Regions from separate parts of the Homo sapiens genome. Here region 2 is linked to region 1. The links come from fine-mapping of genetic effects on gene expression. A gene starts in region 1. The other region holds a variant in brackets. All regions are shown on one strand. Distances are between the middles of the regions.

What was found. PIP is the estimated chance that this variant, and not a neighbour inherited with it, causes the effect.
Region 2: its variant is fine-mapped to the expression of MIR31HG in fibroblasts (GTEx, PIP 0.98).

The regions. Positions count from the first base shown.
Region 1 is chr9:21,550,549-21,566,917 of GRCh38, forward strand. It overlaps MIR31HG (MIR31 host gene), which reads right to left and starts at 9,250. Exons shown (of 3, transcript NR_152879.1): 1 at 8,941-9,250. RefSeq lists an enhancer at 8,025-8,811.
Region 2 is chr9:21,483,701-21,500,069 of GRCh38, forward strand. All of the region lies in intron 1 of MIR31HG (MIR31 host gene), which reads right to left. Among named protein-coding and RNA genes, the nearest start is that of IFNE, 9.6 kb to the left of the region's middle. RefSeq lists an enhancer at 3,580-4,169. The variant G/A (reference allele first, on the strand shown) is at 5,108.

The DNA of each region.
Region 1 (16,369 bases):
TTCCAGATCAGAAAGTCTCAGCTTCTCTGATGCTCCTGGTTGTAGCATATCACTGCAGACCTCAAAGACATGCACTGTCAGATGTCAAGGACACCAGGGTCAAGCAAAATGAAGAGCTATGACAATTCCCAGGATAATTATGCTCCCCAAATTCCTGTTACTAAGGAAGCTCAAATATCCAATGTGGGAAATCAAGAGGAACATGATATAAAAACTAGCCTTATCTGTTGTGTTTTTGCAAATGCAGTCTAACTTTTTAAACAGAAAGCAAAACTAGCAAAGAACAATATGGTGCAATTTTTTAAAAATCTCAACTACCTAAAGTGTAGACCAGTATTATCTCCTCAATTATCTTTTAGGTGCTAAATAAAATCAGCACAGAATACGGCAAGAAAGGATTGCTACCTCAAGGAACTAAAACTCTATTTGGGGAGGAAAATGCACATATATCAGACATCCCGTGAGTGCTGACAGTTTAAACAAAGACCAATGGGAGCAGAGTCATCTCAGTTATTGCCATTTTTGATAAGTCAAATGCACAACAGCAAAATACAAAATAAAATTTAAAAATGAAATATAAACATTTATCTTTTCGTTTGGGTTTCCAAGTAAGTGTTTTATACCACCTTATTGTTCAGCCATCATTGACAGGGGCCAGGAAGGTATTTAAACTGCAGGGTATGTGTACTATTTGTCATTCACTATACTCTTCCTCCCTGAGTGCACTGGTAAAAGTTTGGCCTGAATCCTCCATGCATGACAGAGATGTACTTTTCTGGGATACAAAGTGAAATGAGTATGCCTCGTATTGTCCAGGGCACGATTTCTTCATATTACAACCTTAAGATATTTTAAATTGTATAACTGGAATCTTTTACTCTGGAAGAATAGCCAGTGTACATATAGGTTATCCTTTCTTTTAATCCATTAAAGTCCATACCCATTTCATGACTCTGCATGGCATCTGTAATCTTGGGGTCAGGGAGGGAGAAACCAAGGTGTATGCTAAGACTCTTCTGTCCTCAGCAACCCTCTTAACCCAGGTACTGCTTAGATTGAACAGGCCGTGGTAACTGATAAGCAACATCTGCTCATTTCCTCATTGTTCACTCTCATACATGACTATGCATAAACTAGTGTCATTTTCTAGAATTCCATAGGTTCCACTAACTCTATTTCTGATGACAAACTTGTTTGTCTTTTTTTCTTTCGAAACCTTATGTTTCAGATGAATTTAAATGTAGTCCCTGTTTTTCATTTCCAGACACAAAAAGAGACAATGGCTTCCTCTTTTCAAACTGCTTTAGAATATTCTTTTGTTCAGAATCTCTTTCAAAATGTTGAGGTTTGGTTGTCTTTGGTGGTGTCCCAGAATGATGGTTTACATCATCCCGCTCTCAACCTCTCCCCCCATGCACAAGCTTTGCTTTCCTAGAATATAACCACTCTGCTCTGGTGAGCCTCAAAAGAAAAATTCTGATTTTAAAAATCTAAAGCTTTAATTACTTTTACTATTTAAAAGCCATTTTCCATTATAAAATTTATCATATAAATTTGTCTAGTTTTGTCTTTAACCTTTTTGCTTTGACCTTTGAACATACCCTGTTATCAATGTTTTTGCTATTAAAGCTCCTTTTGTTTCTTTGCATTTTAATCACTGTTTTGTTTCATTTGCAAACTGACTCCGTTCACTGCTTAGTCCTCTGTTTTGGTTCTTTTATTGTGTCCCCATGCTGAATTTCAGACACTGCAAAATGTGAGCCCTGAAAAGGGCCTTTGCATTTACCCTATTCAGGAGTGCAGGATCATTAACCACCACAAAATAAAAACTAGTTCCAACTTCCTCTGCCATCAGGGATAGAAAGCAGTGGGGAAGCTCTGAGAGGGAAGGTAGACTAGAGCCAAAGGGAAAGCATAGGTCCCGGTAGTGCTTCACCTGGATATGGATGTGTGTGTGTGTATGGAATGGTAGTGTCCTTGCATGTGGAGTTCCCATAAGTTCCCTAGAAGAGTTACAGTAACAGCAGTCACGTGAAACTTAGCAAGGAGACCTTGAAGATTTTAAAAACTCTTAGGCAGCCCTGAAGTGGGTCCTCAGTTTACACACTGATAGCCCAGGCAACTCACCCAAAGCCACATGGGAGTAAACACTAGAGATTCAGCATGGCAACCCAGATCCCTTCCTCTAATAGTAGGATACTAGCAAATACTATTTGCAAATACTATTTGCTAATACTATTTGTGAATACTATTTGCTAATACTAGCAAAGCAACATTTCCACCTTATTCTTTGGCTTTTACTTTTTCTCTTGTGAATTTAGTTCTATGAAATCTTGTTTCAGCACACATCTTAATTATGGCTGGCTCTGACAGTTCTGTCTCAAGTCCACAACTTCAACAGACTTTATACCCACACACAAGATCTATATATCCACGCCAAAGGTCAGGTGTGATAATAATGAAGAGGGAATTATCATTTTTAATGATAAGCTACCCACACTTGTTACTATACTTTGCAAGCACATATTATAATTTTCATAGGCAAAGACATATTATCCTTTTATTCATTGTCTCATTCATTGTTTTAATAAATGTTCAATGAACACCAATTTTGGGTTAGGTGCCTCGAAGACTATACTTATATTCCAATTCCAGTGCCATGGCTCTAAAAACAATGATCTATATGGTTCCTTTAGTATGGTCTTCAGAGAAAATTTAAATATCAGATTTAGTACTTTAAAGACACTATCTGCCTCTTTTGGTCATAAACATTAATTACTACCTATACCATCTGTGTCTTTTGCCAGACTTGGACATGAAGGACTTTGAATTAGTTCTAAAAATAAAAATTAAAATATGTGCTATAGCTGAGGACATCCAAAATGCTGTACAAATGACTCCCAAACAGGTTTCAAGAAGAGTTCCACAGATATTCTGCTTAATTAATGTGATATATAACAAAGTAATTAAGAGCAGAGACATAGAAATAGGAAAGACTTGGATTGGAGTCCCAGTACTACACCATTTATTAGCTGTCTGACCCCTTTAATCTCACTAGGCCAGTTTTCTTCTCTGTAAAATAGGAACAATCATGGCGCTTAGATGGGAGGGTTATTTGAAGCTTATCTGCGGTAATATAAGTAAAGCATGGAACCCAGGAAATGATCAACAGAAAGCGCTATAATTGTTATCACTGCTTTGACAATCAGAAGAGTTGGATGCATTTTATTTTAATATTTACTTTTGAACAAAATATTTGGATGAAGCTGACACCCTGGCAGTTTTAGAAAACAGTTTTGTGTTAGTTCTAGTTAGTATTTTAGATGTGATCTGAAATAAAAGTAGACAACAGTCAATTATGTGGCTCTGTTTATATTTTAATAATTTATTTCCATTTATATTTTAATATTTCCAGTAAAATTTATGTTTATAGCTTAGCTAATAGAACTATCTAACACATAGTAACTTGCCCATTATTCTGAAATATGTGGTCTTATCATTTCTACTTCAATAAATTTTGCAAAACAAAAAGGCCACCAACACTTACGATTAGCATAACGAACATCTTCAAAAGGAAAATTTACTTTTCAAATAAATCTGTTTTTTAAATTATTCTTAACTGGGCTATAACTAGCTCTCCATTTTTATATTTCCTTTTGACAGTGTGTTAATTTACAAAAGGAAATACAGAACATTAGCTTTGACCAATTGATAAATACATTTATTTTAAAAGGAAGCTGAATCTTTAAAATGTTTTGATCATCTTTGTCAGTTCATAAGATTTATGGCTATTTCTCCAGAATTTGAAAACCTCTTAGCAGCAAAAATAAAATTTATATTAAAGATTTATTATTCAAAAAACCATCTAGTTGGGTAGTCTTTTATATCTCTTTCCGTTACCTTTCCATACAGTCTTCTTTTGTCTACAAAAATATTTTCAGTCATTTCTGGGTATTGAAAGAAAATATCTTTTAGCTTATATTATTTAATACTTAATAACATTAATATGTCATTAAATTTTTCCTCATATAAAAACTAGAAATTTATTTCCAGAGATTAAAAAGTTATGATAAAATTCTAATTATTCGATTATTAGAAGCAATTAGAAAGCTACTTAACACATATCAGTCCAGGTATTAACCTGTAATTTTTACTTTGAATTACAATTCAAACTACTGTTTTTCAAGACCTCCATTTAATTTGCATAAACATATTCATTTGAAAAGTGAATTAATGTTGCAGTTTTCATTCTGTTATATCATCCTAATCCCAATTCCAAAAGCATAAAAAGCAATGTAAAATTTTATCACTGTTAACGTGCTAGGAAACATGCAGCCATGTTATAAAATTATTAAAGTCCAGCTGCAAAAAAGCTGGGGTTTGTGTATTTGTTTTCAAATTTTATCTACTTCCATTCTCACCTATAAAAAGGAAATGAGTTTTGAGTCACGGCACAGAATATGAAAAGAAAATGTCAAGTGACAATATTACCAGTTTTTACTTCAAAAACCACTCTAGTTAAAAGCTACTTAAATCCTAATTTTTAAGGCTTCATTTACTTTATGTGGATTTTACTTCAGAGAACTCACACTTTTAGTGCTTTAGTCCACTGCTTCTTATATGAAATTTTTTATTTAGTTAATGAAGTTGAGATAATCAGTAAAAGGTTTGATCAGTGAGGCAAAACTCCCCAGGATAATCATTCAATAATGACTTTATGACTGGAATTTCTACTTCAACATGTGCTATAACTCAAAAATCTCAAGTTATTTTAGATAGTAAGATCGTACCAGTTTGACTTTTGGGGAAATCAATCCTTTGCTTGTATTCAAACCTTGGACTCTAAAATAGTCTCACCTCACATACTAGAAGCTTCTAGAGCAGGACTTTCTGAGATGATTTCTTTATCTTATTTTATACATATCCAATTTACTAACGTGGCCCAAGTCCACCTGAAATTTGGCAGAAATAAGACGTCAGTTGTCGGATTACACTGGTTTTTAGATGCAGTTCATTTTCCTTTCCTGCTACCCTCCTCAGAATCAAAATTACCTCTAAGCAAAGAACCTAGATTTAAAATACAAAGAAGAAAATCCAACACAGAATTACCTAAGGAGAAGTGAAAGAACTTTTCTGTAACCAATGCTATGCCTTCTTGGTCACTTTAATATTTGCCATTTTATTGTACTTTTCCCCTCTTCCAAATTGTAGAAGCACTCTATAGAAGTAAAACAAAAAAGAGAACTATAACGCAAACTCTTAATAATTCAAAATAAGTGAAAAACTTAGATTCTTGAGCCACACTCCCCTATATGCTACCTACCCTGGCGGACTTACAATCAAATCATACTTTATTTCTTTCTAATTAGGTTGAAAGTAGTATGAACAAGGCTACTGCCTATACACAAATGGCACTAATTTTCCCATTTGGGTCTAAGTCTTTTAACTTCAACTGTTATGCCCCTGGCAAGGAAGTAAAGCTGAATTGGACAAGACCAAAACATTTCGTGGGTTTGATTTGCTGCGGATCATGAAGTTGGCTTTGCAAATGGCAGAGAAGGGGACTCCTTCACTACTGCTAACTCACAGGAATCAATGTGAAAGAGCTGTGGGGAATTAAGACTCAGAACTTCTTAACTGGCTCAGATTCATATGGACTCAGGCTTATCAGGCAGAACTATGATCAACCCACGTAGCAGGTTTTATTAATTTTCCCTATACAATCTTTCACCGCTCAGTAGTCGATCCTTTGTCAGAGGCAGCACAATCACAGAAATGGAAACTGGGCCACAAACTGCTTAGCATAAATGTTTCCAAGGCCAATAAAAATGGCATTTTTCCCCTGCCATTTGCCCAAAAGTATAATTTTTATTAATATAATTATTATTTTACTTAAAGAATCAGTGCTATTTGGACATTGCTCTTAAATGGAAATTACTTAATAACACATTTAATTTAGAAATTGGCTTCTAAATTAATGCTGACAGCTTGGAAGCTGGTATTTAGACAAAATAGAGTAAGCTGTGTATTCGATAAAGCCATGATTAAGGATTTTCAAATGAGATTTATTTTTTCTGTTGTCTGCTGTATTTTAGTACAACCAATAACTACATCCTGACAAAAAAATTCAATTACATAATAAAGCAGAAACTTCTAGGAAGTCCGAAAGTAAGTTTTGTTCTCAGACTCTTTTTACTCCCCTCCATACTGCAAACCAGCACACATATATACAATCGATTTTTCCCCTTCATCTAGACTCTTACCAAAATTATTTTAATAATTTCCTGGACTGCCTTCTCACATAAGATGTGGATAAAAAAGCCTCAATATCCATAAATACAGCAAGCACTTATATTGTACAAATAAAATAACTGACTTACTTTCTAAACACTTAATTGTATTTAAAAAGATGACATAGTTAAGAAGTCCTCAGTGAAACTACAGTTTATAACACAAAGATCAAATTTCGCTGTTTCTTAGTTAAGATTGACCTACCCTAGATCCAACAAAAGTTGCTGTTTTTTTTCCTCACTTCCATAAAAATTTCTGAATCACTTGGGAGATTATTTCTAAGGAAATAGTTGTGAAACCAAGAAGCTGTTCAAACTTAAGCATCAATTCTTTTGTTAATTCATTTTATGATTAAAAGAACTACCAAAAACATTACTCTCTAAGAATCCTATCATTATATGTATTTTAAAGTGTCTTCAAAAAGCCATTTTATCTTAAAGCTGGATTTCATTCCTCAAATGTTAATAATCTGGGATTGCATCTCTTGCTTTTTTACAGTTAAAATTTGTTTAGAGCCCCCCCGATGTTTATATGCCAAAGCTACCTAGATACACACAATGAAGAAAAACTGTGGCAATTATATGAAAAATATAATGACATCTGTCATTAAATGTCAATGTTTCAAGTAAAACATTTCTTATAAAAACCTGTTACTGAAGAAAAGAACTGTTAAAGTACATGAATTAAAGTATTTTTAATTATCCCAAATACGTACCAACCAAATTTAACTACAGCTTAGTTTTTTAGGCAAACCAAGATGACTATTTTTTTTAATCTGAGAAAAACATGGTATGTAGAAAAATTCTATTTTATTCAGTTCAACACTCTTCACTTGAGGATATGAAATTTATAAGTATGCAATCTCCTTGAAATTGTAAAAATATAATACACAATTTTATACTACCTTCTAATTTTACTTCCTCAAGCATTTGTTGTAGTTTCTAGAATAGCTATCTAGCCATTACACTGTACATAAAAGTGATCCTCCAATTTATTTCCACTTCTAAAAAGATGCTTAAATATAGAATAAAGCATTTCATACCTCCCTTCTCGTTTAAAATTCCAAAAAGGGCCAACAATCCACATTATAGGTTAAACACTTTGTCTCTGTTATACACTTTTCAGAATTTATAAGACTGAAAAATTATAAAATTTCATCCAATGAATAATTCTGTACTTTATTAAAGTCTGGTTTCTCTAAACATTTACCTATCATCTAAGCAATATTAACATGTACAACAAAGTAGTAATATGGTATAAATAGAAAATAAACACTCCAAGCTGATAATTCCATAAGGTCTAATGATTCTATTAAAACAAACACAAATCAAAATTTTCCATTTTAGGGCCCCAAATTCAACTTGAAACATTTTTTATATGATAAGATTAAAGCAGCTGCCCAATTTTCAGGAAGCTCTGTCTCAAGTTAAGGAAAAAAAGAGAAAGGAGGAACTATAGTTCTTTGGGTGACTTAAATCACTGCCTTTTTTACTTTTTTTGCCTTAAAATCAAGATAAAGTTCTCACCTAAAGATTAACCTCTGAAGACAATGAAAAATAACCAGGATTGGACTTTAAAAAACAACTTAAAAGTCAGCCCCCTCATACAAAACTCGACAACAAATAAACCTAGACTTAACTGTCATTTTCAAATCCAATTTTTACCTGAATTGGTAAAAATTTATTTAAAACAAAATGCAAAATACAATATTGTTTCAATTTTGGCCCAGGAGATAAACACTTTAATGCAGAGTTAATAAACTCCAGCGAATAAATAGGATCATTTTCCTAATTTCACTTCAAAGCTGCCAGGATTTCAATAAGGAAGTTCAAAGGCCCGATTCCAGAAACTAGAGGTCCCCGGAAAGTGAGGGGCGTCTGGCCACAGCCTCAGTTCCAAACCAGGTATAGTTCTTGAGCTGTCATTCTTAGTCCTATTACCACTAATACAAGGTCAAAAAAACGGTCCTGTAAGGTGTCAATTAAGGGGTCACTTTTGCCTAAGGTTTCCTTAACTTCTCTCCTAGTGAAGCCGCTCTAAGTGAACATTTCCGCTGTGTTTTTTTTAATGACTGCCATTGTCTCGCTGGAGAATCGGAGGCTCTTTTAGAAGTACTGTTGGAAAATTCAGGATTTTACAAAACATTTTCTCAGCTGTACAGGGCAAAAACAAACTTTAATCCTACTAGCCATGGGTGTAAACCACAAGCCTAATTTCTCTTCTAAGAAGGGAAAGCTTAGTTAAGTTTTAAAGTGACAGTAATTTTAGGTGGTAAAATGAGCTCAACTCAAACATCGCTGTATGAAAGCGCTCTCCGCCAACACGCTCATGGACACACACAACTCCTTCCTCGAGGTTTAGGGACAGAGAGCGAACCTGTGACTTCGGGCCAGGATGACGACCTGAGATTTGGACAAGAGGAGGCGGCGGTTCCGCGAAGAGCCAAGGGCGGCCGGCGCTCCGGGATGCGCCGGACCCCGCGGCGCATCCTCGTTTGGGCGCCAACGGGCGCCGGCGGTCCTCGGACCCGGGTGTCGACTGCCGTGTGCCCACTGCCGTGTGCCCAGGCCCCGAAGCCTCCTCAACTCCTTGAGGGGCGCCTCCCTAGCCAGCTCAGCGCGCAGCGGGACCAAGGCTCTCCCAGCTTACCTGCGGGTCCGAGTAGGAGGACAGAAGCGCCGCCCGGCCTCGCCCAAGCGCACACGAAGGGGCCGCTTCCCGCCCCCCGCACCCCAGACCAGGCGGCTCACGGAACACCGCCTCCCAGCTCTGGCCCGGGACCAGGCGGTCCCCCAGCCGGCTTCGGCGCCGCGGCCGGGGACGCGCGTCTTCCTTCTCCAGGCGCCGGACGTGGAACCTGCGAGCCCCTGGCGGCGCCCCAAGTTATGCACAGGTCGCAGCTGCTCACCAAGCTCCTCCTGGGAGGCCGCCCTGGTCCCCGAGAGGGGCGCGCGGGAGTGGACGTTCCCGCACCTTCGCCCCATCCACACCTGCCGCCGCCGCCGGGGCCGCCAGCGCCGTGGCTCCGCCCCGGCTCCGCCCCTCGCCGCCCCCGGCTCCCGCTCCAGCCGCCGCCGCGACCGCCGCGGAAAGGAGGGGGAGGGAAGAGGCGCCTGGACGGGGCTGCGGGAGCGGCCGTGCTGAGCCTCCTCCCTTGGGCCCGGACGGGACCCAGGTTTCTCCACTGCAACGCAGCTCCCGAGTGACGGAATTTTGTGGGGGAAGCGGCGGCCACTACGCTCGCTTTTGGCACAGTAGCCCTTTGCGGGTGGGAGCTTCTCGCAGTCAGAGCTAAGGGAGAGGGAGTCCACCTGCAAGAGCCAGAGCTCGCCCTTGTACTCTCCGAATGCAAACTTAGCAAATTGAACAGCGGAAGTACTTCCTTGGTCGGACCCCTGCTCTTCTAGGGGTCTTCTAGAAACGTGGCGGCTATCACAGGCCCCGTGGTATAACTGGCATTTGGAAAACGAGGGTGTTTTTCCATCTGGAGTGGCCTCTCTCCTATCCTCAACCCTCCGTGTCCTTCGACGCCTCTCTCAGATGCCATCTCCACCAAGAATTTTTTCCGGGTACCCACCTGCGCCCAGATTTGATTCCGCCCTCTTTGGGACAGCCTGGGTGCTCTGAACCTTTCCACTGCCCCTTCAGGTGTATGAGAGCGCCTTGTGAAATGCATGGGCCATCGTTAGTTATTTTTATTGCAATATGTGGTTTCATATTCAGTACTGTAGTATACAAGCAGAGATATTTATGCTTTCACAACACTTTTCATTTGGGTTTGAATTCCTTAAACATGAAGACTATAGTAAGTTGCCCATCTCTGGAAGTAAATACTGAGGGGTACATGGCAGGGTAATCCGACCCGATGACCTAGCCAGAAGTTCTGGCTGTCCTACTCAACTATGCCCTCCGCAAGCCCAGCATGGTAGCCTTTCACCTGGATTTGAAGGGGAAAATTGTATTTCTCTCTGAATGTAATTACATTTTGGCAAAGGTCAGTCTAGTTACCACCAAAAAATATTCTACGAGTTGAAGGGTGGGGGTGGGAGCGTCAGAGCAAGGTTAATAGTGGTATTTTATTGATTTTGAAGTAAATATAACTCTACGTAGTCATTTGTTCAACCAAAACGAAAAATATTCATCAAATATTCCCTAATAAGTTGGTACTCATTTCCTTAGCCACTTTAAAAAACACAAGTCAAATATAATTGATTATATAAATTGTATTTGCATGAAGATTTGAGTCCAAGGACTATAAGAAAGATTCAAATTTTAAATTTTCTGCATACGATATGGTTAAATAAAATGTTTGTATACTATTTCCTATACCTAAGTGTATGTTTTGAGTTGAGATGTCAGTAGTGTTTAATGGTTAATAGTGTTAAGTAAACGACAGCTAGGAATCACTACAGTTAGCTTAGAACAGGTTGAATTTATGAACTCCCATTTTAAAGAACTGAGAAATCTCAAACCATATGACTGCCTTGACCAAGAAATAAAAAAAATTAAACAGATTCTTAATATTAAAATTTCTGAAAATTTTGAAAAATGAATTTTTAAAATTAACAGTCCTAGTATTTTTAAAAAGCAAATATTTTAGAAATCATGAAAAATGTACCTTAAGATGTAAAAGAGGATAAACCTCAGAGCTAAGGTCTTTTTAAAAATGTAGTTAGTGAAACCTATTCATGGAAAACTCAAAAGCATTCTTTGAAGTGAAAAAAGTACTCTAAATTTATTATGGAAAGTATAGTATCATTGAACTCAAATAGCTATTTTAAACATCGTAATTCTGTGAGTAACAAGAAAAAAAAGCTTTCCTTATATGTGAATCCCACTAGGCAAGACTTTGTCCAAAGTCCAACAGAAAAAAATATTGAATAAACAAGCATAAGCATCTCATTCGTGGAACATATTTTTAAGCTTTTATACAGAAGCCCAAAATAATATTATAGAAAAGATTACACAATTGCATAGCCAAAATTATATATCATAATATTATGAATAGCAAAGAAGCAAAGAAGGAATAATTCACCTCAAATAGCAAATAAACAAAAAGTGTCTTAAGCCCATAGTATCTTTTAGACTTCAACTGAGGCAAGCAAGCTGTTTGGCCCAAGACAAATATACATAATATCACAGTAAACCCAGAGCTAATAGAATACAGCCATAAGAGGCCCACATTGCAAACACACAGGCATCTGTAGCTAAAACTATCAAAGGGGCTTGCCCAGGGTACTTCACATACAACTTTTTGTTCCATCTTACTTCATTATAATGACAGCATCATCTTGAATGTGAGAATTTCCTCCTCAACCTTTACCTGCAAGTAAAAGATGAACCACTACTCATTTTCTAGTTGTACCCTAAAATGAATAAATAAGTCAAAGTTTCTACTGGCATTTAAATTATTTCTAAATATATTACTTACAAAGCTTAATGTATTATTTTAGTGATTAATAATTTCTGTACCATAAAACTTGTTCTGTATTAGTTATCACGTCTTTATACATCCACTGGTAATCAAGGACTTTCAGAAGAGAGTAGAATACAATCTTTATTTTATTTAAAGTTTAAATATATGTATTTAAGATACATATGTGTATGTGTGTGTATACATATGTATGTGTGTGTGTGTATATATATATATATAAATATAAATATAAAATGCACCCACACACATGAAGTACAGGACAAATGGGAACAGAAATGCCAAAACAATCTTTTTCCAAAATAAATATTTATAATAATTATAAAATAAATTATTAACAGAAAGTATACAAAGTGTGCTTTCCATTTCATTTTTAGTTTACTTATTTAGAAATGTTTTTGCATGTAAGCAAACCCAAATTCTGGTGATTATTATTAGTATTGTTTTTGAACAATGAGGTGGTGCAAGAAGCATTGGAAAGAATTTCTTAGCGGTCTCTCTGGCATTTTTTGAAGTTCTAATAAGCTTTTATGTGGAAGTTAGCAGATAATTTCAGTTTAAGTGATTTGACTGATGACATCGACAAATATTTTAATGTCTTCTTTATAGTAGACATGTTATAGAAAAACTTTATATATAAAAAGTTTATATACAGAAAACTTGCTAAAAAGTATTTTATAGTTCTTTACGTAGAAAAACTTGCTAAAAAGACAACACTATAAATATCTATGCAAATGTTATTATCTGTTCAAACTAGATGGTGGGTGTATGAATATCTGGCATCATTTTGAAATGTTTCATAATTAAGAATAAAAGTTGAAATAAGAATATATAACAACGGTAAATGAAATATTGAAATTATTTTAAAAATATTTGTGATTCCCCATTTATCCTTATATAACCTTTAGCACGTTAAAGCATTTAAATGGATTATCTTCCATTTGTAGCCTTTTTTTTTTTTGTAGCTACAATCTCATGCCTGCTACTTTTGAATAATACAGTTCTCACTGTGAAGAGCGAGGTGAGAAGGAAGCATTTTTGGTACATGTAGAAAGGTGAAAATTAATTTTTCTAAAAGAGACAGTGTCATGCTTTTCAAAATAAATATTGTAGGTAAAACAGGAACAAGCTGAAAATATTACGTCATTGTATCTTTATTCCATGCTAAGTTTAGAATGTTATTTTGCCTGGTAGTATTATTTTCTTTAAACGTTTAGTCAAACACACATTTTATTTCACCTAACTTCTGTAAAGTAGAAGTAGGAAAAGAAATATTTAAATTATTGAAAAAACTGAATATGAAAATATGAGCCATATTCTGTTTTATTCCTGGTATGATTTTTTATAAGAACATTTAGAGAAAGCCATAGTTTTCCCTTAAAAATGAAATGACATAGTATTGGATTGTACAGTTGTCTTTAGGTATGCATAAATTTATTGAATGCTAAATCGGTTTCCAGAATTTTTCAACCTTGCCCATTCAGCCCTCATTTTAGGAACCGTCATGAAGCTTGTCTTAATTGAAAATACAGGCAACAACACTAGCTGCTTAAAAAAAAAAATCCCTCATGAGCTGTTAACATACAGAAAGTTAATCTCTGGCTCAGAAATAAGTCTTCCTTATCAATGGCCTTGTTCATCTTTGAATCATCCATATTTTGAAGAATCAAAGGATTTCAGAGGTCTCTATGAGGAAGAGTGGTGGTTCTCAACTCCAACACACTAGGATGATATGGATATATCTACACGGGCTTCCAAACAATTATTAGATTGTTATAGTACAATGCTTAGTTCTTGCTAACTCTGATTTTATCTCTTTCTCCTCTCTTGAAAGAAAGTGAAAGCAATGTTTTTTAACAACTTTAAGTTTGCTCTAATGTAAAGAGATAAATTATTCATACTCATTATTTGTAACCCACCTTACAATTTATAGAGACGCACAACATGTTAAGTAGATAGAGGACTATATAATACCAACCCCCCATCACTAATAGTTTTATTCTAAGGAAAAAAGTCAGTTTACTCCCTCTTACCTGTCAACCTGGTGATGGCTTCCTCATTGTGTGGGTTTAGGCTTTAGCTGAGTGGTGAGATGGAGTATGGAAAGGATCTATCTGACAGGATTCTGGGAGGGGCTGCTCTAAAGTGCTTTGTGGTAGAGATATAGAATTGGAACTACTACTAGGGTCTTACTGCTCAGTAAGACTCCATAGAGGATCAGCATCAGCAAGACCATTTAAAATGCAAAACCCTAGATGATACCCCAGACCTACTAAATCAGAATCTGCATTTTAAGAAGAGAGAGAGAGAAAGGACTTAGAGAAAACAAAAGGTAAAGAAAACATTGGTCTTTCTCAAAGATAGCAGGTCAGCTGCTGAAGAGTTCTGAATAGCACCCTAAATCCCAGCCATCCATTCTTTACTCGAAATTGGACTTATTCCTTCAAGGAATGCATTTATTAGATAAAAGGAGAAAAGTAAATAAATGATGGACTCTGTTTTGACACATTTTGAACAATGGCCAGGTACTTCCATCAGGAAAAGAAAGTGCTAGGGCATCCTGCTTAAAGTAAAGGACTCTTGTCATTAAGCTAGCACACTAAATTAGAATGCAATAGTGTTATTTTAGAGTGGTACAAGACACGTGTCAGTAATCCTTTTTCTGGCATTTTAGTGAGTGCAGTGGAAAATGTATTCAGGCTTTGGAATGAAGTGCATCTCATTTTTACTCTCCTCTCTGACACTTACCTTCATTAAATTTCCAAAATCTTTGTCCCTCCATTTGCATACCAGTAAAAATAGTAAAAATATTGTAATGTATAGCTCATATGGTACTGTAAAAATTAAACAAAATAATATTTATAAATTTGTTAGCAGAGTGCAGGGCACACCATTTATGTTTAAAAGGAGAGAGACAGAGAGAGAGAGAGAGAGAGAGAGAGAGACTTGAGAGAAACACCAGTTCCATTTCCCTTCCTTTGTAATGGTGTTGCTGCACACCTAGTGTGTTCAGTATAGAACACATCAAAGACCGTCAAATGTCTCTGGGCTGTTGGTTTTAAGGCTGAAAAAGCCAGCAATGTTTGGAACCACATCAAGGATTCCAATCCATTCCCACTCCCCATCCGATGAATGACTAGTTAAAAAGTCATGCCCCTGTGCATGTTGAATACAAGAAAAAACAAGTTTACAGCCAAGGCATACTTCTTAAATCCCTGTCCAGCTATGGAAAGAGAGCTAAAATCTAAGCAGATGTCCAATTGAGACCCAAATTATGAACGTGTGCATGTGTGTGTTTTAAAGAAAAAAATGCAGATTATCTTTATGGCCACGACTCACCTTCCATGAAACTATCTGAAATGAGAACTGGCAGTCATAAGGGAGACATGTTGATATATCCAATACACTGAGGTAGAAGGCATTTGTGTGGCTAGGATATGTGAGAGGGTCCTTTTCTCCCTGCTGGGTTTTTTGTTTGTTTTTTGTAAATCTCTTGTGCCTGATACTTGCACAGATATATTCTTACGGTGAGACTTTCTCCCTGGGGAAGTTTTCCTAGACATAGCCCTCACCCCCATCCTCCCATGCTCAGTTGCTTTGTCTGCTGTTTTCCCATATTAAAAAAACAAAACAAGACAACTCTGTAATATCCTTTGCATTGCATCTCCTCTGCTAGCCTTTCAGCGGCAAGTACTATGCTTTATTTTTCTTTGTTTTGTCAGCCTGACCCATTTCCAAACACATGGCAGGTCCTCGATAAATGCAGAAATGAATACTCTGATCCAACATTTGCATTTATCAGACTTGGTATCCCATATGAAGTGTTCCATGAAAAAAAAAAAAAGAGAGACAGAGAGATGTTCAAGAAATCTTGGGCTTAAACCTCAGACCCATTAATAGGCTAACATGCATTGTATTTCTCAAACATTTTTGACCATCAAAACCCACTCCCACATTTTTTAGAGTGTAGCAGGGCACAGTTTGCAAAACACAGCCCTAGTACAAACAAAAGCAGTCCAAACATTCAGCAATGGTTCTTTAATGCTTTCTAAATTACAGAGTGTAATAGCATTTTGACAAAACAGAAATCTCCGTGTAACCAAAAGATTCACAATACTAGATTTTTAACAACATTTAATTCAACGGAATCCCAGTACAATGAAATAATTTGGACACTCCCTGGTAGTATTTTGTACGAGGATTTCACCTGGGTTGGATAAGAATCTGACTAATGTTATTTTACCCAAAGTAAGCCAACACAAAGGGCAAAAGAAGGGAAATATTTGGCATAATATTTTTCCAGGCAATGGTATCAGCATAGTAAACTCAGTAATTACAACTCTGGTTCTAGACAGGTACCCTATACTTTTCAAAAAGCTTTCTGTAGCATTCTGGGAAGATGGTTTGGACAATGGATAGCAAATGAGAAAAGTGATTGTATGAATCAAATTCCTGCAGGTGGTGATCTTTTATACCAGGTTTTCCTCCTGCTTCTTTTCTACCTTCCCTACCTCTCCTGCCTTCCCTGTTTTCACTTCTCCTCCTTTTATACTCTTCAGACCACTACTTTTCCCCCATTTTGTTACATCAGGGCTAGTGGATAATGCTAAACTAACACTCATTATAGTAAAGATGATATTAAAAATA
Region 2 (16,369 bases), 67 kb before region 1:
TATTTTATGGCTTAGAATATGGTTTATCTTGGTGACAGTTCCTTGTGAACTTGAAATAATAATGTTCTACTTTTGTTGGTTGGACTGTTTTATAAATGTCAAATAGGTTAAGCTGATTGAAAGTGTTTGAAATTTTCTGTATCCTTTCTGATGGTCTATTTGTTCTATCAACTATCAAGACAGAAGAGCTGAAATCCCTAGTATAATTTTAGATTTGCCTATCTCCCATTTCAGTTCTATCAGTTTTTGCCTTATATATTTTAGAACTTTAGTATTAGGTGCATCATATTTAGGATTATTATGTCGTCTTGATGAATTGACCCCTTTATTTTAAAATGTTCCTCTGTATCCTTTGCATTATTCCTTACTCCTAAATCAACTTTCTCTGATAATCATTTCTGTTTTTTTAATTAGTGTTAGCATAATATGTCTTTTATTGCATCTTTTAATTTAACTTATTCATGTTATTATATTAAAGTGAGTTTCTTGTACAGAGCGTATAGTTGGACCTTGTATTTTATTCTGTCTGACAATCTTTGCTTTATTAGAGTGTTTAGGTCATTAAATTTAATGTAATTGTCAGTATGGCTCAGTTTATATCTACCACTTTATTGTTTGTTTTCTAACTGCCCATATGTTCTTTTTCTCACTTTTAAGCTTTTCCTTCCTTCTTTTGGATTGAATTTTTGTTGTTGTTTTCTATTGCCCATTTTATCTCCATTATTGGCTTGTTAGTAATACCACTTTGTTTTACTTTTTGTTTTCATAGCAGTTTCTCTAGGATTAAAAATATACATCTTTATTTAACATATTACAGTTTACCTTCAAATAATATTACAATCCACTTAAGGTACAGTGTAGGGATATTATAACAGTATCCTTATATTTCCTCTCTCTCATTCTTTACACTACTTTCACTAATATTTCTTATATTACACGTCCCCTGGAAATAAACTCTCTTGGCTTTTGTCTGTCTGAAAAAGTATTGTGTCTTCTTTTTGAAATATATTTTTGCTGGGTATAGAATTCTAAGTTGATATATTTTTTCTTTAAGAACTGTAAAGATGTTGCTCTACTCTATTCTGGCTTGCATAATTTCTGAAGAGAAGACTGTGGTCATTCTTAATTTTATTCCTCTGTGCATAATGTTTCTTCTTTTTCTCTGGCAGCTTTTAAGATTTACTATCACTATTTTCTAGAAATTTGATAATAATGTGCTTTGGTGTGATTTTCTTCTTGTCTCTTTTACAAGGTTTTTTTTGAGCTTTGTGAATCCATGATTTTATCATTTTCATCAAATTTGAAAAAGTTTCAGACTTTATTTCTTTTAACATTTTTCTATTACCATTCCCTCCTTCCTAATCTCTTCTGGGACTACATCTCTAGATGTGTTTGACTGTTTAATATTATCACACAGTTCCCTGAAGCTTTGCTCATTTACTTTTTAGTCTTTTCCTCTGTCTTATTTCTAATAGTTTCTAAGTCTGCCTTCAAGCTTATTGGTATTTCCTTTGGTAGTATCTTATCTACAGTTAATCCCATCCAGTATATTTATCACTTCAGATATTATACTTTCATTTGTAGAAGTTGAATTTGTTTCTTTTTCATATCTACATTTCTTTCCTCATCACATTCATCTTTTCCTCTACATTCTTGAGCATATGGAGTACATTTATAGTAGGTGTTTAATCTCCTTTTCTGATAATTCTATCATTTGTGTCATTTCTGAGTCTGGTCTTGTCAATTATATTTCTACTCTTTATGGGTCCTATTTTCCTATGTCTTTTGCATGTTTGGTAACTTTTGAGTGGATTCTGAGCATTGTAAATTTTACTTTAATGGGAGTTGGATTTGTTAAGTCCTTTACGTACAGTTGAACTTTGTTTTAGGGTATAGTTGAGTTACTTGGAATTGGATTCCTCTGACATTGGCTTTGTTAGCATGAGTGAAGCAGACTTTATAATTTAGGGCAATGCCTTTGTAACCAAGAATATAGTCTTTTGAGGACTCTACTTAATGCTCTCTGAATTTGGAGATTTTTGCCCTCTGGCTGCTGGAAACATGAAATATCCCCAGCCCTGTGTTAGCACTGGGGACAGCCTGTACTGCCTGCTCCTTTCTGGGTGTTCTTTTCCTAATCGGGTAACTCCTTTACGCACATACACAAACCACACATTAGCTAAAGACTCCTGAAGACATTTTTACAGATCTTCGTAGCTCTCATTCATTCTTCCCCAATTTCCCTCTGTGCAGCAATATCTTCTCCAATATTTTTCTGCCTCCCTGAACTCCAAACTATGACATATCAACTCATTGAGAACACTGGTCTGTTGGAGTTTCCTCCTCTTTGTGCTGCAGCCTGCCAATTTTCTATCCAGCATTAAGCTGGAGCAATTGTAGGGCTTACTGTATTTCTTTCCTTTCTCTCAAGGATCATTATCTTACGCTGTCTGTTATCCAATGTCTAAAAACTATTTTTCGTATATTTTACTCAGTATTCTAGTTGTTCAAAGTGAGATGATAAATCTAGTTGTCCCTCATGACTAGAAGTGGAGGTTCTCTCATTATAAATAATCTAAAGTGGGAGTTGGCAAACTATAGCCTATGGACCAAATCTGTCCTACCACCTCCTGCTTCTTCTTTTTTTTTTTTTTTTTTTTTTTTTTTGAGATGGAGTTTTGCTTTGTCGCCCAGGCTGGCGTGCAGTGGCTTGATCTCGGCTAACCGCAAGCTCCGCCTCCCAGGTTCACGCCATTCTCCTGCCTCAGCCTCCCAAGTAGCTGGGACTACAGGCGCCCACCACCACACCCAGCTAATTTTTTTATATTTTTAGTAGAGATGGGGTTTCACTGTTTTAGCCAGGATGGTCTCGATCTCCTGACCTCGTGATCTGCCCGCCTTGGCCTCCCAAAGTGCTGGAATTACAGGCGTGAGCCACTGCATCTGGCCTACCACCTACTTTTGTAAATAAAGTTTTACTAGAACACAATGATGCTCATTTGTTATGGCACTTTCATGCTACAATAGCAAGGCTGAATAGTTGTGATAGGAACTATATGGTCTACAAAACCTGAAATATTTACTCTCTGGTCTTTTACAGAAAGGTTTGCTGAACCCTGATCTAAAAGATTAAAAACAAAATATAATTGTATTCAAAGTCTAGAAATTTTGAAAATGTTTTCACAAAAAATGTAATCTAAAGTAAATGTTAAAAATATTACATATTTTATATTTTCAAAAAACATGAAATATTTTATACAATGTTATCTATCAAAATTAAAAGACAACATGTGTGGTATAATTAATATCAAATTTAAACTGACAGTATTTAAATAAAGCATATACTTAACCTTTTAATTAAAAACGTATTAAGCATTAAAAATGTTTATAAAAGTAAAATTACATGCAATTCTATCTTACAAGGTTCATATGGATAACAATGTAAAAAAAAATGTATCACACTTCCAGCATATGTCTAGACCAACATAAATTAAGATTTAAGAGTAAAATAAATTGATTAATATTGAGAAATATTTTCCAGCCTCCATGTACAACTATTGCCAATGCCCATCATAATTTATGAGTCCCTCCTGAATCACTAATTGTTTTTTTTTTTTTTTTTTTTTTTTGAGCAACATGGCTCTTTATTTCACCTGGGTGCAGGCGGGCTGAGTCCGAAAAGAGTCAGGGAAGGGAGATAAGGGTGGGGCCGTTTTATAGGATTTGGGTAGGTAAAGGAAAATTACACTCAAAGGGGGTTTGTTCTCTGGTGGGCAGGAGTGGGGGTTCGCAAGGTGCTCAGTGGGGGTGCTTTTCGAGCCAGGATGAGCCAGGAAAAGGACTTTCACAAGGTAATGTCATCACTTAAGGCAAGGACTGGCCATTTACACTTCTTTTGTGGTGGAATGTCATCAGTTAAGGTGGGGCAGGGCATGTTCACTTCTTTTGTGATTCTTCAGTTACTTCAGGCCATCTGGGCGTATACGTGCAAGTCACAGGGGATGCAATGGCTTGGCTTGGGCTCAGAGGCCTGACATTCCTGCCTTCTTATATTAATAAGAAAAATAAAACAAAATAGTGAAGTGTTGGGGCGGCAAAAATTTCTGGCGGGTGATATGGACAGAGAATGGGCGATGTTTCTCAGGGCTGCTTCAAGCGGGATTGGGGCGGCGTGGGAACCTAGAGTGGGAGAGATTAAGCTGAAGGGAGGTCTTGTGGTAAGGGGTGATATTGTGGGGATGTTAGAAGAAACATCTGTCATATAGAATGATTGGTTGGCCTGGATACGGTCTTGGATGAAGTGACAAACTAAATGGAATAAGAGAAGGAGAAAAACAGGTATAAAAGGACTAAGAATTGGGAGGACCTAGGACATCTAATTAGAGAGTGCCTAAGGAGATTCAGCATAGTCCTGCCAGCAAAGATTATTTATTTACTTCAAGAGTTTAGAGTGGCAGTTTGGGGATAGCACCAGGAGATATCAGCTGCGATGGCTTGGAGAAACAGTGTAAACCAGCAGTGTAAACAAGAGCAGGGCATGTATGAGTAGTTGAGAACGGTGAATAGGAGTATGACTAACAGATGAGGATGAAATTTGGGCTTGACTGAAGTAATGGGGGCTGTCTGTGAAGCCTTGCGGCAGTATAGCCCAGGTAATTTGCTGAGCCTAATGGGTGTCAGGGTCAGTCTAAGTGAAGGCAAGTGTTAACAGGCTTTAATCCTTTCAAAGCATGCTGTGGGATGGGATATTGGCATTGAGCCAGGTAAGGGTGATTAGGTTTTAATGAGATGGTAAGGGGTGCATGATCGGTCGCCAAGGAGGGAGTAGAGGTATCTTATACTTGTGGGTTAAGATGGGGGAATACAAGAGGAGGACGCAAAAGAGGCTTTGGATTGGGAAGAAGGGCATCAATGAGATGCGGCTATGGTCCAGGAATAGTCAGGGAAGCAGATAATTTGGTTAAAATGTCTCAGCCTAATAAGGGAACTGGGCAGGTGGGGATAACTAAAAAGGAGTGCTTAAAAGAGTATTGTCTAAGTTGGCACCAGAGTTGGGGAGTTTTAAGAGGTTTAGAAGCCTGGCCGTCAATACCCACAACAGTTATGG[G/A]GGCAAGGGAAACAGGCCCTTGAAAAGAAGGTAATATGGAGTGGGTAGCCTCCGTATTGATTAAGAAGGGGACAGACTTACCTTCCACTGTGAGAGTTACCCGAAGCTTGGCGTCCGTGATGGTCTAGGGGGCTTCCGAGGCGATCGGGCAGCGTCAGTCTTCAGCCGCTAAGCCAAGAAGATCTGGGAAGCAGTCAGAGAGCCTTGGGCCAGAGTTCCAGGGACTCTGGGAGTGGCTGCCAGGTGAGTTGGACAGTCCGATTGCCAGTGGGGTCCCGCACAGATGGGACACGGCTTAGGAGGAATCTTGGGCTGCAGGCATTCCTTGGCCTGGTGGCCACATTTCTGGCACTTGCAGCAAACTCCTGGGGGAGGAGGTTCTGGAGGAATGCCTGGCCGCTGCGGTTCAGGCGTTTGGAAGTTCTTGTGTGCTGGAGATGTGGCTGGGGTTTGTCTCACAGTGGAGGCAAGGAGTTGAAACTTTTTTCTATTATTGTACACCTTGAAGGCAAGGTTAATTAAATCCTGTTGTGGGATTTGAGGGCCGGAATTTAATTTTTGGAGTTTTATTTAATGTTGGGAGCAGATTGGGTAATAAAATGTATATTGAGAATAAGATGGCCTTTTGACCTTTTAGGGTCTAGGGCTGTAAAGCATCTCAGGGTTGCTGCCGAACGAGCCATGAACTGGGCTGGGTTTTTATATTTGATGAAAAAGAGCCTAAACGCTATCTGATTTGGGATAAAGAAAAAGGAGCATTAACCTTGATTATGCCTTTGGCTCCAGCCACCTTTTTAAGAGTAAATTGCTGGGCAGGTGGGGGAGGGCTAGTCACGGAACGAAACTGTAAGCCCGACCAGGTGTGAGGAGGGGAGGCGATAAAAAGATTATAGGGTGGAGGAACGGAGGCTGAGGAAGAATTGGGACCTAGCTCGGCCTGGCGAGGAGGGGAGAGGTCAGATGGGTCTGTAGAAAAGGAAGATTAGAAAGACTCAGCGACGCTTGGGGTTGGGACTGAGGGGACAGGCGGGAGGGAAAGAAGGAAGATTTGGGACGAGTTGCACTGGGCGCAGAGACTAGGAAGGGACTGATGTGTAAAAGAATGCCTGGATGTCAGGCACCTCAGACCGTTTGCCTATTTTACGACAAGAATTATTTAGATATTGCAGGATGGAAAAATTCAAAGTGCCATTTTCTGGCTATTTGGAACTACTGTCGAGTTTGTATTGGGGTCAAGCGGCATTGCAGAAGAAAATAAGGCATTTAGGTTTTAGGTCAGGTGAGGATTGAAGAGGTTTTAAGTTCTTAAGAATACAGGCTAAGGGAGAAGAAGGAGGAATGGAAGGTGGAAGCTTGCCCATAGTGAAGGAGGCAAGCCCAGAGAAAAGAGTAGAGACACGGAGAAGGGGTGGGGGTTTCTTGCCCTCCAGAAAAGCAGAGAAAGGGTTGGGGCACAGAAATAAGGGATTGGGGCGCAGAGATAAGAGGTTGGGGCATGGAAATAAGCGATTGGGGTGCAGAGATAAGAGGTTGGGGCGCAGAGATAAGAGGTTGGGGCATGGAAATAAGCGGTTGGGGGTTCTTGCCCCCTAGGAAAGCGGGACTCGCCGCTAAGGGTGAAGGAGAAGGGGTTGAGGGGTACTTGCCCCTGCCCCAGGAAAGCAGAGAAGGGGTAGAGACAAGGAGAGAAGAGGTTGAGGGCTATTTGCCCCTCTCCCAGAAAAGCAGAGAAGGGGTAGAGACAAGGAGAGAAGGGGTTGAGGTACTTGCCCCTTCCCCAGAAAAGCGGGACTTGCCGCTAAGGGTGAAGGACCAAGGCAGGCGTCCCTGCGTGGTCTGACACCCTTGAAACATGGCTGAATGATCAGAGAGGCGTCCCTGCAATGATTAAACACCAAGGGAAGGCTGCCTTCCCAATCCGTGACCGGCGCCGGAGTTTTGGGTCTATGAATAAAACGTGTCTCCTTTGTCTCTCCCAGAAAATGAAAGGAATTGAAATTAAGAGAAGGGAGAGATTGAAGAGTGGAAAGGAGAAAGTGGTTGAGGGACAGTGAGAGAGGTTGGAGAAGAGAGTAAGATGAGGCCGCTTACCGGATTTGAAATTGGTGAGATGTTCCTTGGGCTGGTTGGTCTGAGGACCTGAGGTCGTAGGTGGATCTTTCTCACAGAGCAAAGAGCAGGAGGATGGGGGATTGATCTCCCAAGGGAGGTCCCCTGTTCCGAGTCAAGGCACCAAATTTCATGCGCGTCCGTGTGAAGAGACCACCAAACAGCTGAATCACTAATTGTTACGTAAAGACAAGCAAGAGAATGGACACTGGGGACTATTGAGACATGGTATTTCATTTTGTAAGAATCTATTGCGTTCCTGCTGTCCTTGAGGAAGGGTTTACTAGGCAATTAATGTGTCTTCTCTTTCCTCTGCAGCTCAAATCCCCTACATTCCAAGGCAACGTCTCCTTCATGGCATCAGGTACAGTCAATTTTTTGTAGGGGACTGAAAGCAAGAGATGTGGAGAAATATCTCCCTGGGTACCAAATGGAATTACTAATGAGCATGTATATTTAGAGTTATTGGGCCATATGTGAGCACTGAGTACCAGATCCTAAGTGATGTGGGTACTAGATGCTTTTTTAAAATGTTGTGTGTGTCTATGCATGTGTGTGTATGTGCACTTCCGTGTGTGCATACACATGTGTTGTATAAATTGAATCATGTCTGATATTCAGGTTTCTCAAAAGGGCAAGACCTAGAGTAGAGCATAGGTCACTCTTGTCTGAATCTAAGGATGGTATTAAGGAAATTCACTGCATGCTTACATTGCTTAGAGAAAGACAATGGAAAGTGTCATGATGATGAAAAAAGGGCTAAATCTTAAGTATCAGTCAGTATGACGAAGTCTCTAAAATAAATTAAACAAACGACTGGTAGTTCATCTTTAGCTAGAATGGGCTTTTCAATGACTTTTAAATTTATTACATAAGTATCAAGTTTTATTTATTCACTTGTCTCCATAAATTATTTATCATTACTGTCAATCTAAAAAATGTAATTAAAATTGTGATACCCTCTGTTTAAAACACACAAAAACAGTTCCAGTTAGTAAACGAGGCATTTTAAATTCAACCAAAGGATGGCAGCATAATATCAATTACTTAGAGCCTGGGATAAACTTTGCTGTTGGTAAGATATCACAAATTAATGGTATCTAGTGGTCTGATAATGTATGATCAGCAATACATTACTCAGACCAGGTGTATTGTTCCCATAACACATTAGCTCACTAGTCTGTCTAATCCATATTAAGATACTTGCTGGTTAGTATTGTTATATTTTCCTTTTTTGCCTTGACCACTCTAATGGACATGCCTTGCTTTCTGGCCATCTACTACCTCCTCTCCCTTTCTGGGGGTCGGGGGGTGGGGGCGTCTGTAAACATATTCTAACTTCTCTGACCACTCTGGGATCTTGTGCTCTGGCCAGACTCTCCAGCGTGCCACACACAGGGTGCCACATCTAGCCCTATCCCAAGCTACTCAGCGCCTCCCTTTGCTCTGGCCTCAGTTATTATTTCAGATATGGTTATTTTTCCCAATGGTATCGACACAGCTCTACTCCATTTTCTGAGCATAAACTTTCAAATATTTGACCATATTAATTTATCTATCATAGAATTCTGGAGCTGGAATTGATCTTAAATTGATATCTAATCTCTGCTTCCCTTTCCCTTTTTGAAAAATTCAGTCCTAAAGACAATAGATGGACAAAACAATGTAAGCATTTTGCTGGAAAGGGCAGGAAGCCACACTGCTGGAGCTCAGACAGGCAAAGGTGACTGTTTATGTGGAGAGAGAACCTGGCATGGGTGTCACAGCCTAAGAGTGATTAGAGCATCCGTGGAGCGGGGCTGCTGTGGGGAGTCATAACTTGAGTGGAGTGAGGAGAAATATTCTGTAAAACAATTGCCCTGTAATCGTTCAAGGTCATGAAAATCAACAAAGACCCAGCAACTGCTCCAGACTATAAGAGACTAAAGAATATAGCAACTGAATGCATAGCATGATTCTGAACAGGATCCATTTGCTACTAGGAATATTATAGGGTCCAAGCACCGTGGCTCACACCTGTAATCCCAGCACTTTTGGAGGCTGAGGCGGGTGTATCACCTGAGGTCAGGAGTTTGAAACCAGCCTGGCCAACATGGTGTAACCCCATCTCTACCAAAAATACAAAAATTAGCTGGGTGTGGTGACGGGTGCCTGTAATCCCAGCTACTTGGGAGGCTGAGGCAGGAGAATAGCTTGAACCTGAGAGGTGGAGAGTGCCGTAAACTGAGATTATGCCACTGCACTCCAGCCTGGGTGACAGAACAAGACTCCATTTCAAAAAAAAAAAAGAATATTATTGGATTATTGGGACTACAAATCTAAATACGAACACTGAGTATCATATGGTGCTAACGTAACAATGTTAATTTCTGAATTTTGTTGTGGTTATGCAGGGAAAATATCTCTGTTGGTAGGAAACACACATTAAAGTATTTGACAGTATTGGTGCATCAGCTTGGCAACTTAAATTATTTCAAAAATAAGATTCTCTCTCCTGTATTTTCAACTTTCATGATTATTTCAAAGGATAAAAAGTGTGTTTGTATTTTTTAACTAAATAATCCACATTTGAGACATGATGACAGAGGTCTAACAGAGCAGAATAGCCTTCTTTTTGTACACTATCATCAACTATACTGTTCTCCCTTTCCCTCTTCATAATTTAGGCCAAGAATGGCAAAAGCACAGTAGAAAGGAAAAGACCACCACTTCTCATGAAAATTGTATAACATGATACTCAGCACATGGGCTTTAATGTGCAACAGAATAGGTTTAAACCCCAACTCTACTACTTGCTTGCTGTGTGGTTTTTAGCAAGCTATTAACTTCTCTGTGTCTCAGTTTCATCAATGTTAAGACAAGTATAATAATGGTGTCTCTTGGAGTTGTTGTGAAATCTAATTGAGATAATCCACCTAATATGTTTAGTATAGTGCATGGCATGTAAGCCATGCATAATAAATGTTATTATTTATGTTATTATTAAAATATCATTTATGCTAAAATGATATTATTAATAGATAACGGCAGTCTGTTCCATCAAGCTCTAGGTAAGTACTTTCAAAATGCTCTGAGGGTAGCCCCTATTAATCAGTCACAGCTGGAAATAAGATGAAGCCCATTTTCTATTAACTGCTTTTTCAACAAATGTCAATTAATTCAAAGAAAGAAGAACCAAGTGTGTACATACTCTAGAAGCACTTAGATGACATGTATTGGTCCTCATGTTATTAATTCATTCAAGAAATGTTTATTGATTGCTTATTATGGTCCTAGCATTGCTCCAGGCCCTGTTCAGTTAAACAGAGATAAAGATCCCTGGAATGGAGTTTGATTGGATTAGGTAGGGTAAAAGGGGAGAAATAGTAGAGTATAAGCAAATGACATAGCACAGCAGTCCCCAACCTTTTTGGCACCAGGAACCTGTTTTGTGGAAGATAATTTTTTCCATAGACCAGGGTGGGGGAATGGTTTCGGGATGATTCAAGCACATCACATTTATTGTGCACTTTATTTCTATTACTATTATATTGTAATGTATACTAAAAATAATTATACAACTCACCATAATGTAGAACCAGTGGGAGCCCTGAGCTTGCTTTCCTGCAACTATCTTTCTCATTTGGAGGGAAACTATATTTCCCATCTGGAGGTGATGGGAGACAGTGACAGATCATCAGGCACTAGATTCTCACAGGGAGCACGCAACCTAGATCCCTCCTATGCCTAGTTCACAACAGGGTTCGCACTCCTATGAGAGAATCTAGTGCTGCCACTGATCTGACAGGAGGCAGAGCTCAAGAGGTAATGTGAGCAGTGGGGAGTTGCTGTAAATACAGATGAAGCTTTGCGCACTCACCCGCTGCTCACCTCCTGCTGTGTGGCCCTGGTTCCTAACAGGCAATGGAGCAGTACCGGACTGTGGCCTGGGGATTGGTGACCCCTGTTATAGCATTCTATAATGCAGATGTATACCAGAGTAAAATCAATTACGAGCATCTCTTTTTTTCTAAAGTTATTGACCTTCTGTATACAGAATGACACAAACAAATTGCTCAAGATCAATCCCCAAGAAACACCAATATTTAAGCAATGAGTAGAAGAGGAGACCAAAAAGTGAAATAAACAATGTCTAGGCCAGGTGCAGTGGCTCACACCTGTAATTCCAGCACTTTAGGAGGCTGAGGCGGGTGGATCACCTGAGGTCAGGAGTTCGAGACCAGCCTGGCCAACATGGTGAAACCCTGTCTCTACTGAAAATACAAAAATTAGCCAGGCATGGTGGTGGGTGCCTGTAATCCCAGCTACTCAGGAGGCTGAGGCAAGAGAATCGCATGAACTCAGGAGGCAAAGGTTGCAGTGAGCCGAGATTGCGCTATCGCACTGCAGCCTGGGGGACAAGAGCAAGACTTCGTCTCAAAAAAAAAGAGTGTCTAGATCAGAAGGAAAACCAGTTTTCAAGAACAAAGGATTGTGTAACAGTGTCACACACCACTAAGTGGGCAAGAAAAGTAAGTACTTGAAAACATATGTTGAAGTTAATTACATGGACATTATCAGTGACTTTGGCAAACGGAATTTTCAATGGAGTATTAGGGTGGAAGCCAGATTTCAATTCTTATAAGAGGAAATGGAAATAAACAACAAAATGATATAGGATATGCCCACAAAAATTTGATCACTACATCGAAGAGAAAAATTAACTGAAAATAGGAGTGAGAGGTTCAGTCTTGGCAAGTTTTGTTTTTTATCTTGTTTTGTTTTTTAAAGTGAGAAATATTCTCTGTTGATTAGAAGAAACCAGTAGAGTAGGGAAGAAATGGAACCAGAGCCTCATGTTGGGCTTGGTCTGTAACAGGAAGGAGAAAAGAATAGGATCAACACAGGTTTGAGTGCAGGTTTAGAAGAGGAAGCTCAGTGTTTCATTCTGGTGGTTTCTATTTGTTTTCTTGAAGTGGAAGACTAGAGCACGTGATGGACCATCTATGAGATTAACATGTGCCCTGGCACATTCTATTTTCTTTGCTTTGAAACCTGTCTTGTCTCCCAATTCAACTCCTCTTCACCCAGCTGACATGCTCTTACACATGGGCTTATAGCTCCATTCATAGCTATCATTATAGTCTATAAGATTTGTGACCATTTGACTAATTTCTCTCTCTCCCTTCAGAGGGTCCTATCCGTTTCTGTATTTTGCTTACAGTGCAGCCACACAGTGTAGCACACTACATTCCAGCCCAAAATACAGTAGACACCCAATAAATATCCCATAAATATTGAATGAATAAATGAACTTATTCAATAGAGGAGAAAGAGGTGTTCTAAACTTGAAGGGAGGGGGCAAATTTTAGGGTTGTGATAGAAAGAATGTGAGGGAGAGTTGACAAAGACAGGAGAGCAATATTGAGTATCTGCTTACATAGATTGGTGAACTAAATTAATAGAGGCACCAATTTGTCTTGATTTAAATAAGCAGAGAAGATTCACAGTCCATCCAAGGTTGGGACTTTGGCAGGTGAGAGTCAACTGAATGACAATGAAACAAGGGATTCTAGGATATTGGTAAGAGAGCTGTAGAAGTATTAGACCCCATGATCTACAACACATAAGTTTGAATTGTACATAGATTATCAAATTCAGGGGCAACGTAGTTCTCCCCAAACCCTCTGCTCATGTTTAAGTCTTAATATTAGTCTTTAGTCTTAACACTTTACGTACAATGTAATATTTAATACACAAGTCACACTGTTAGATGTACAGTGTCACTTGTATGTCCACTCAAATGGTGATATCGAAATAACAGCCATTACTTACTGAGTATATATTATGTATAAGACACTTCTTGAAGAGCTTTATGTATTTGGTCCTCATCATCTAATTCTTTTCTTTCCCTCTTAATCCTCAGCAGGATTCTCCGGTAAAATATAGTAAAGAAACAGAGACTCTTAGCATAACAACACGTCAAAGTTACAAGAAGTGGCCTAGTTATCAAGAGAAAAATTTATCCTACAGATGCTCCATTGTGACAAAATTTAAAAACCTAAGCTTTTTAAAGGTAAATGTTAAAAGGTACATGAACACTCTAAAAAAGATGTAGGCAAGTATGACCATCATGATTCTGAGAATGTTTCATCATGTGTCCAAGAGTGAACCAAAAACATGAACAGAAAAGGGAGGAGAGATTAAGACAGAGGGAAAATGGAGTGGGGGAGATGAGAGATATGAAACCCTGGACAACCATCTGAGATGGATCTCTGTGGACTGAAAAACATCTCATTAAAAGAAGTTAAGAGATAGTTTGAATGTTCTCTAACTCTAGGTGTGTTCACTGTTGATTAACCATGAGATTGTTTTATTTCTGGGAGTAGACAACACACCCTTGGCTGTCCAAAATTATTTTATTGACACTTAATACTCTTACTATGTGCTAGGCATTTGTCTAAAGGAATCACAAATATTATTAATAATTTATTTAATCCACAAAACTACCTTATGAAGTACTATTATTATCCCCATTGCACAAATAAGGAAACTGAGCTACTGACATATTAAATCCAAATGTTGTGTGCATTATTGAGAGAATAAATATAATGTTATTTCTAATCTTTATAATATTCTTGAGAGGCAGGTCTTATGATAATAAGATCATTTTAAAAATGAAAATAAAAGAAACCTATGATTTAGAAAAGTTAACATTTCCAAACATGGTCAGCTGGGATTTCTACTTCTGGTCATGAGGGACTGACAGGGTCAAGAATTACCCTCCCTCTACAAACAATTTAAAAACTAAACAAAATATAGGAAACAACTATTTTCAGTCATTGAAGAATAGCCAATCCAGGACTGTGATCCCTGAGAGATGGGAAACAAATGAGGCTTTTTGCCTGGGGGCAATTTTTAGACTGTGTTGCAGGGAGGAGGACCCTTTCTGAGCAATCTCTCTCAGTTCAGGAGACAGAGATAAAAGTCTGAGGAAGCCAAAGCATATGAAATTTGCAAGACAGAGTACCCAAAAGAAGTGAGCTACCCAGAAAAAGAGTTCTAGAATTTTTTTATAAGGGTCCCCTTGAGTCTTTGGTAAATGCTAATGTGTACATGCACTGGGTAAAGCCCTATGAGGCCCAGCAAGTACAACCTCCAAAGAAAGAATAATTGCTGGGGAGCTTTAAGCCAAACAACTTAAGCGCACATTCAAGACTGAAAATTGTTCAAGTTCCCACCAGCCACAGGGCAAAAGACCCTAAAAGGGCTAAAACTTAAATGTGGGGCTAAATTAGCCCGAAAGTAAAGACTACTACAGATCTGTCTTAAAAGAACATAAAAACAAGACTTTAATCAAACTAATCCACAATTACCATAGCTGCCTACTGAAACAAAATCCAACCTGTTTAAAGGAATACAACAAAATCCGTCACACAAAAACATACAATCACAATAACTGGCATTCAATTAAAAAAAACTACCAGACACAGGAAATAAGAATATATAAACTATAATCAGGAGAAAAATTAATAGAAAATAAATGAGATGATAGAATTAGCAAAAATATTAAACTGCTATCATAAATAGGCTCCATGTATTCAAAGATATACAAGAAATTAAGTATAAAAATAAATGAAATCTTGAAACAAATGTTCAAGATATAAAATACAATATCTGTAAAGGTCATTAGATAGCCAAATACAACAAACAAAGACAATTGATAGTAAATAAAATTAAAAGTCAGCTCCATGTGACTGTAAGGTATTATCGTTTTCCATGGTGCATTCCATTGTATGGTGCTCTGTAAAAAGCCACAGCTAACAACAAAAGCATGCATGTCACCCCAAACAGAGGGACCATGAGTAGAGGGACAAATGGCCATGACACAAGGAAAAGAACAGTTTTAGAATCAAAATAGACAGAGGCTCAAATTCTAGCTCTGTAACTTATCAACTAGGTAAACCTACATGAGTCTTCGGAAACTGAGTTTATTCCTTCATCTGTTAAATCAACATAGAAAGGCCTACTTCATACAAAGCAATAATTGATACTACAGGTAAGAAAGTATTACCATGTTGCTTGACACATAGGCACATAAATCTTTTTTCCATAGCTGATAGAGAAAAACCCTAAAATTCTCATGTATATTCAAGAAACTAAAGAAATATTGCTGATTAGAAGGCCTGACCCAGGCTCAGGAAAAGTTATGGTGTGGTGTGATGTGGTGTGTGTGTGTCTGAGTGTGTGTGTGTGTGCATGTGTGTGTGTGTGTGTGTGTGTAGGGGGTTGGTCCTGGGTGGGTCAGATGATATCAATGAACATATTTTTCTCTGAATAGCATGCAAAGTCTTAATGAATACTGCTCTTCTGACCTAAAAAAGGTAACAGGCATTCTAGGTGGAAATCATCACAGAAAAGGATCTACCAATATAATTTAGGAAATATAGCAAGTCAACTTTACCTTGGAATTAATGCTCTGTTTTTCTCTTGGAAGAAACAACATACTGGATGTGTCAGTGTTTTACACTAAGATAATAGTGGCTCTGAAATCTAGCCTACCAAATGTACAGTGCTTGGGAAGAGAGTTAACTTTTTAGTAAGGCTCCATTTCTGTAAAAGAGGAATGCTGATGATTAACTTGCAGAGTAATTATAAGGACTAAAGAAGATAACATGTATAAATTGCCTAGTAAAGACATTAGTAATTTAATATTTATTTATTCTCTGACCCTTTGAAGTCCTGCCCCAGCCCCCCAATTCATATTTATTTTATCTCTTGGTACCAAGAAATCCTCCTTTTGTGGGAACTGAACTAAGATTCCATTCCACTGGCCCTCTGATGTCAACTTCTTCAGTTTAGACTTGTCACTTCTTCCTTTCCTGAAGAAATATTTGAAAGATTAAAAGAGACAAACACCAGCGAAGTCATTGTAACCTCACAGGGTTTTTGTCACATTTGGAATTCATTAATCTGAGTTTTGAGAAGAACTCAGTTGACTTCACTCCTTGGTAGAGCAAAGAGAAAAATAAACGAGAAGACGATATAATATTAAAGAACTGGAACCTTTGCCCTTTGCCTTCTTAATCTGGCCTACATTTCTCAAGGCTCTAAGCAATTACCAAATGACGGAGTTGTCTAAAATCAATTCTGCTTACTTTGTGTAACTACCAA